2 linked regions of the Homo sapiens genome follow. Changing the gene in region 2 together with the main gene of any one other region gives a genetic interaction. Each region holds a gene or a part of one and is shown on either strand. Other genes may lie near its edges.

Region 1 (3,826 bases), on a different chromosome or scaffold from region 2:
GCCAAGATCGTGCCGCTGTGCTCCAGCCTGGGTGACAGAGCAAGACTCTGTGTCAAAAAAAAAAAAAAAAAATGTTGATTGAGCGGCTGAATGAACAAATGTGCAGTGTGCTCTCTTCTGAGGGTCAAAATGCGATGGTTTTCAACAGCAGAACGCCAGTAGCCTCAGGGGGTCTATAAACACCTGATTCAGACTTAATTAAAGTTATACATGTACATGTATATATACCCGCAAACACTCTTTTTTATTATTTTCTACTTTAACTTTTAAGTTCACAGGCACATGTGCAGGTTTGTTGTATCAATAAACTCATGTCATGGGGGTTTGTTGTACAGGTTATTTCATCACCTGCGTATTAAGCCTAGTATCCATTAGTTATTTTTCCCGATCCCCTCCCTCCTCCCACCCTCCACCCTCTGACGGGCCCCAGTGTGTGTGTTCCCCTCTATGTGTCCATGTGTTCTCATCATTCAGCTCCCACTTATAAGTGAAAACATGTGGTATTTGTTTTTCTGTTCCTGCATTAGTTTGCTTAGGATAATGGCCTACAGCTCCATCCATGTTCCTGCAAAGGACATGATCTCATTCTTTTTTAGAGCTGCATAATATTCCATGGTGTATATGTACCACATTTTCTTTATCCAGTCTACCATTGATGGGCATTTAGGTGGATTCCATGTCTTTGCTATTATGAGTAGGCTGCAATGAACATACACATGCATGTGACTTTATAATAGAATGATTTATATTCCTTTGGGTATATACCCAGTAATGGGATTGCTGGGTTGAATGGTATTTCCATTTTTAGGTCTTTGAGGATCCCCACACTGTCTTCCACAATGGTTGAACTAATTTATACTCCCACCAACAGTGTATAAGTGTTCCTTTTTCTCCACGACCTCACCAGCATCTGTTATTTTTTGACTTTTTGACTAAAGAAGCAAACAAAGGTATTTTATGTGCCACTTTTCAATATGCCAGAAGCTACAAATGAATTAACTTGAGTTCTCATGAACTTTGTTATGTAAATGTCATAAATTCGAATTTTTAAATTTCTAGTAATGAAACATACTTTCATCTAGTTCAGACATGGAGATCCACATTAGATTTTTTTTAAGGTTCATCTCTCTCTCACAGACACAGCAGACATACACACGCACATGCAAACACACTTATTTTTAAATTATGGATCATCCTTCTAGTTTTGTTAATTTTATTCCCATTTTGCTCTCAGACATTTATTTTAGATTCAAAACCTGTACAAATTTCATGGCTACACAAATTATTTCACGTGCCTAAAGGAGGCAACAGAAATTTAACCTAGTTTGAGGATGTACAATTGTGAAAGTTGTCAGAATCAAAATGGAGCTGCCAATGTTAACAAAACGCTGACATTAGAGCAGGAGGAGGCCATGAAGAGAGGATTCTCACACTTGTGTGCCTGATAAAAAAGAGACTCGACGAAAACCACAAAGGCCATTGCAATCTGTTTTTTTTTTCCCTGTCACCAGGCTGGAGTGCGGTGGCGCAATCTCGGCTCACTGCAACCTCCGCCTCCTGGGTTCAAGTCATTTTCCTCCCTCAGCCTCCCGAGTAGCTGGGATTACAGGCGCCCGCCACCGTGCCCAGCTAATTTTTGTATTTTTAGTAGAGACAGGGTTTCACCATGTTGGCCAGGATGGTCTTGATCTCTTGACCTCGTGATCCACCTGCCTCGGCCTCCCAAAGTGCTGGGATTACAGGCATGAGCCACCGCGCCCGGCCAGGCCATTGCAATCTTACACAAAAAATACTTCTGCAAGGACATCCGCCCAGTGACTATCTGTCCAACCTTAGACAAGCGTCAGTCTTGTTATTAATCTTTGAAGCCAAGGATAATTATTTCAAAAAGACTATGGAATCCTCACTTACAAACCTCTGTCTTCCTTTATCTCCCTAGATACCCACATAGTTTACAATGGCACGTGTATTCCCATTGCAAAGCCCTGTTCCCAAATCAATCTCTTTTCTTTCAAGAGAGCCCCTCTCTGTTTGTTATTTAAGTTGACACTATCTTGAAGGTCAAATCAACGAGCTCTGTGGGAAGAGAGGTAGTGTCAATTTCCAGAACATTCCACCAGCTAGGACTCTGAGGGGAGCTTACCTTGCCTGCCCCAAACAAGTGGCAGCCCTTGACAGCTTCAAAAATGTTGGGTGAGATGTCGGGCTGGGCAGGCAGGTGGGACTGGGCCAGGGACTGTTTCACTTTCTTCACGTCCACAAGACACAGTGCCCGCTCTTCTCCTGAACAGGAAAAGGAACAACCTCTCGTCAGTGTGAAGCCGTTAAGTAAAGGTACGGGATGGTGGTTCTAGTTCTAGTCACAAGTAAAAGTCACAAGAGGCCACACAGATGATCTGAGTTTTCCACAAATCCATATAAACACATTTTAGGTCCATGATTTATTTATTTTTTTTTTTTAAATTTTTGAGACAGAGTCTTGCTCTGTTGCCCACACTGGAGTGCAATGGTACAATCTCGGCTCACTAAAACCTCTGCCTCCTGGGTTCAAGCAATTCTCCTGCCTCAGCCTCCTGAGTAGCTGGGATTACAGGTGCATGCTACCACGCCTGGCTAATTTTTTTTTGTATTTTTAGTAGAGATGGGGTTTCGCCATGTTGGTCAGGCTGGTCTCAAACTCCTGACCTTGTGATCTGCCCGCCTCAGCCTCCCAAAGTGCTGAGATTACAGGCGTGAGCCACCACGCCCGGCCCAAGTCCATGATTTAAATCTAAGACAATAACATTTGGCCTTTTAGTCAAGATTCTGAGGAGGGTGGAATTCTGCAGACATAAAATTGGAGAATGTGAACTGTACTTTCAAACATGCTCCCCAGCAAAGTAAAGAACGAATGTGTGAGGGAGGAATGAGGAGGCATTCTATGAAAAAACAGACTTGGACTATCCAAATATGTGGATGTCAGGAGAGACAAAAGGCTGAGGAACCGTTCAGATTAAAGGAGACTAGAGAGACATGATTAAATGCAATGCAAATTCTGGGACATTATAGAAGCCACAGGTAAAATCCAATTATGGGCAGCATAGCGGATACTTGTATTATAGTAAGGGTAAATTTCCTAAATGCAGAAATTATAGTATGTGAAACTATTCTATATGATACTCTATGTGTGGATACATGTCATTATATGTTTTTCAAAACCCATAGAATGTATACCACCAAGAAAGAACTCTATAATGTAAACTGTAGACTTGGGGTGACAATGATGTGTCACTGTCAATGTGTCAATGTAGGTTCACTGACTCTAACGAACGTATCACTCTGGTGGGGGATGTTGGTAGTGGGGGAGGCTATGCATATATGAGAACGGGGGTATATGGGAACTCTCTGTACCTTTCAATTTTGCTGTGAATCTAAAACTGCTCTAAAGAATAAAATAAGGAAGAGAGGAAGAGACGGAGGAAAAAGAGCTGAGATTAAGAAAGGCCAGTTCTTGTCCATAGTATGTCAGTCCCCGGATCCAGCCATGCCTGAAACAAGACCTAACTGTTGTTGTTTTGAACACTGAATCGATATATTACTCTTTTCCCCTTTAAAAATAATGTCACTAACACAGACAGAGAGAAATAAACTGTACCCTGGTTATGTGACAGAATGTCTTCAATCCTTAGGTTGATATACTGAAGAACTTGGCGTCATACCTGCAACTAACTCTCAAATGGTTCAGGAAAGAGAGAGAGAGAGAGAGAGAGAGAGTGTGTGTGTGTGTGTGTGTGTGTGTGTGTGTGTGTGTGTGTGTGTGTGTTAAGAAGACAGAGAAAAAAATTAT
Region 2 (3,826 bases):
AGCCTCTGAGTAGCTGGGATTACAGGTGCCCACCACCACACCCAGCTAATTTTTGTGTTTTTAATAGAGATGGGGTTTCACCATGTTGGCCAGGCTAGTCTCGAACTCCTGACCTCTGGTGATCTGCCTGCCTCAGCCCCCCAAAATGTTGGGATTAAAGGCATGAGCCACCGTGCCTGGACTATTTTATTTATTTATTTATTTATTTATTTATTTATTTATTTATTATGTTTTGAGATGGAGTCTCTGTCACCAAGGCAGGAGTGCAGTGGCGCGATCTCGGCTCACTGCAACCTCCGTCTCCTGGGTTTAAGCGATTCTCCTGCCTCAGCCTCCCAAGCAGCTGGGGTTACAGGTGCATGCCATCATGCCCGGCTAATTTTTTTATTTTTAGTACAGACAGGTTTTCACCATATTGGCCAGGCTGGTCTTGAACTCCTGACCTCGTGATCCATCTGCCCGGGCCTCCCAAAATAGTGGGATTACAGGCGTGAGCCACCATGCCCGGCCTCTTTTTTTTATTATTATTATTATTATTATTATTATTATTATTATTATTATTATTATTTTGAGACTTTCTCACTCTGTCGCACAGGCTGAAGTGCAGTGTGGTGTGACCACGGCTCACTGTAGCCTTGACCTCCTGGGCTCAGGTGATCCTCCCACCTCAGCCTCCTGAGTAGCTGGGACCGTAGGCACATGACACCATGCCCAGCTAATTTTTGTATTCTTTGTAAAAGGACAGGGTTTTGCTATTTTGCCCAGGCTGGTCTTGAACTCCTGGGCTCAAGCAGTCCTCCTGCCTCAGCCTCCCAAAGTGCCAGGATTACAGGTATGAGCCACTGTGCCCAGCCCACAATCATCCCCTTAAAAAAGACAGAGTAAGATCTTCAACAGTTTGAAATTTTATATTTTTCTTTTTCTCCTTGAATTCCTTTTCTTGTTTACTCCTCCATGGAATTTTTAATGTAATTTTATGCTTGAAAGCCTACTCTTGGAAACCATATATTTCTCTGCAATAAAAATACAAGTATAAATTTAAAATTTTCATAACATGTGACCAAGTGTTAAAACATTTTCTTTCAAAATTATTTTAAAGGTAATGTTAATATAGTTATTCAAAGCCATATATATATATATATAAAGTAAATTTATATATATATATAAAGTAAATTTGAAAATAAGCCTTGGCTGGGTATGTTGGCTCACACCTGTAATCCCAGCACTTTGGGAGGCCAAGGCGGGCAGATTGCTTGAGTCCAGGAGTTTGAGACCTGCCTGGGGAACATGGTGAAACCCCATCTCTACTAAAAATAGAAAAATTCGCTGGATATGGTGGTGAACCCCTGTAGTCACAGCTACATGGGAGGCTGAGGTGGGAGGATTACTTGAGCCGGGGACATGGAAGTTGCAGTGAGCTGAGATTGTGCCACTGCACTTCAGCCTGGGCAACAGAACAAGACCCTGTCTCAAAAAAAAAAAAAAAAAAAAAAGGAAAAGGAAAGAAACCTTAAAAATAAAGTGTTATCGTAAATAAGTCCTATAATGAAATGGATAGGATTGCTTTCCCCACCTTGATTAGTTTGTGGATCTATGAATGCATATTGCACATTGATGGAATGAGAGAACTGCTATTGAGCTGGGTTTAATTTTTTTTTTTTTTTTTTTTTCTGAGACGGAGTCTTGCTCTGTCGCCCAAGCTGGAGTGCAATGGCATGATCTCAGCTCACTGCAACCTCCACCTTCCAGGTTCAAGCGATTCTCTGCCTCAGCCTCCTGAGTAGCTGGGATTACAGGCATGCTCCACCATGCCCAACTAATTTTTGTATTCTTAGTAGAGACGAGGTTTCTCCATGTTGGTCAGGATGGTCTCGAACTGTTGACCTTGTGATCCGCCAGCCTCAGCCTCCCAAAGTATTGGGATTACAGGTGTGAGCCACTGCACCTGGCCCAAAAACATTTTTTCAGTAGATAGATTAACATATTGTTAAATAGTTTTGGTGATTTCATTTTTCTCTGCAAATGGCTTTTACTTGGAAGTTGTAAATTATTAATCTTCTCTCTTATGCACATATGCAACATAATCCTATCCATGACATGTCTCATTACATGCACTGATTCCCAGAACAGGGGCCAGTTGGAGGCTTTTGAGCTTTTTTTTCGAGACAGAGTTTCGCTCTTGTCACCCAAGCTGGAGTGCAATGGTGCAATCCCAGCTCACTTCAGCCTCCACCTCCTGAATTCAAGTGATTCTCCTGCCTCAGCCTCCCGAGTAGCTGGAATTACAAGCGCCTGCCACCATGCCAGCTAATTTTTGTATTTTTAGTAAGATGAAGTTTCACCATGTTGGCCAGACTCATCTCGAATTCCTGACCTCAAGTGATCCACCCACCTCGGCCTCCCAAAGTGCTGGGATTACAGGCGTGAGCCACCACGCCTGGCTGGTTTTTGAGCTCTTGATCCAGATATGCATGCCTACCTTGGTTGAGAAAAATCACTGCTCTAGAAGACACTATAGGGTTTCCTTAGAAGGTTTGATCATAGGTAATATGAAGATTGTGTCTCCATATTACCTTAGACAAGTTTTTACCAGAAATTAGTTTAGTTTATAGATCTGTCTTATGAGTCCATATTCTAATGAAATATTTTCCATTTTTCTGTAGGATCTTAAATCTTTAAGAAGTCAGACATCAAGAGGTTCTGCCAAGCTGTCTCCTCAGTCCTTCAGTGTCAGGCTCACAGATCAGCTGTCTGCTGACCAAAAACAGAAGAGCATCAGCTCATTGACTCTTTCAAGTTGTTTAATTCCACAGTATAATCAAGAGGCTTCAGTTCTACAGAAAAAGGGGCATAAAAGAAAGCATTTCCTAATGGAGAATATAAATAATGAAAATAAAGGAAGCATTAATCTTAAAAGAAAACATATTACATATAATAATTTGTCAGAGAAAACAAGTAAACAAATGGCATTGGAAGAAGATACTGATGACGCCGAAGGCTACCTAAATTCTGGGAACTCAGGAGCATTGAAAAAACATTTTTGTGATATTAGGCATTTGGATGATTGGGCAAAAAGCCAGCTGATTGAAATGCTCAAACAGGCAGCAGCCCTGGTGATAACTGTGATGTATACTGATGGTTCCACCCAGCTAGGAGCTGACCAGGTTAGTAAACAGTGATGTTTTTATTTGCTGTCTTGACACCATAAAAGAAGCCCATTTTCTTAGTGTCAGATTTTGATAGGAGAGCTAGAAACAAGATTTTAAGGCTTTCCTTCCCCTCCAGTGGTAAGTGATTGACAATGTATGCTCCCATCAGTTTCTTAGGAAACTGTAAAACTGTTTTCCAGAGTGGGTGTACCATTTTACCTTCCACCAGCAGTGTACTAGGGTTTCAAATTCTCCACCTCCTTGTCAACACATGTTGTTGTCTGTTTTTTTAGCCATTCCAGTGATTCCGAAGTGGTATTTCATAGTGGTTTTAAATTGTATTTCCCTATTATCTAGTGACATTGAGCATCTTTTCATGTGCTTATTGGCCATTCATATATCTTCTTTGATGAAATGTCTGTTCAAATTTTTTGCCCATTTTAAAATTGGGTTATTTGTGTTTTATTCTGGATCTTTATATATTCTGATACAAGTCTCTTATAAGATATATTATTTATACGTCTCCCAATTTCTGTCATATTTTTAAAAAAAATTATTGAGGGTGTCTTTTGAAGCACAAAATTTTTAAATTTGATCTCTATTGATTTTTTTAAAAACCTTTCCTTTTCATTTTCCTTTTCCTTTTCCTTTCCTTTCCTTTCCTTTCCTCTACTTTC

What was found.
Region 1: changes in POLN (region 2) and CIT together harm fitness less than expected from each alone (positive genetic interaction), as found in Homo sapiens cells (one large-scale study listed by BioGRID).

Annotation. Positions count from the first base shown.
Region 1 is NC_000012.12:119,706,036-119,709,861, forward strand, and holds part of CIT (citron Rho-interacting kinase), read right to left. Parts: intron 2,284-3,826; coding exon 2,144-2,283; intron 1-2,143. UniProt on the Homo sapiens protein: Plays a role in cytokinesis. Required for KIF14 localization to the central spindle and midbody. Putative RHO/RAC effector that binds to the GTP-bound forms of RHO and RAC1. It probably binds p21 with a tighter specificity in vivo.
Region 2 is NC_000004.12:2,207,325-2,211,150, reverse strand, and holds part of POLN (DNA polymerase nu), read left to right. Parts: intron 1-2,663; coding exon 2,664-3,164; intron 3,165-3,826. UniProt on the Homo sapiens protein: DNA polymerase with very low fidelity that catalyzes considerable misincorporation by inserting dTTP opposite a G template, and dGTP opposite a T template. Is the least accurate of the DNA polymerase A family (i.e. POLG, POLN and POLQ).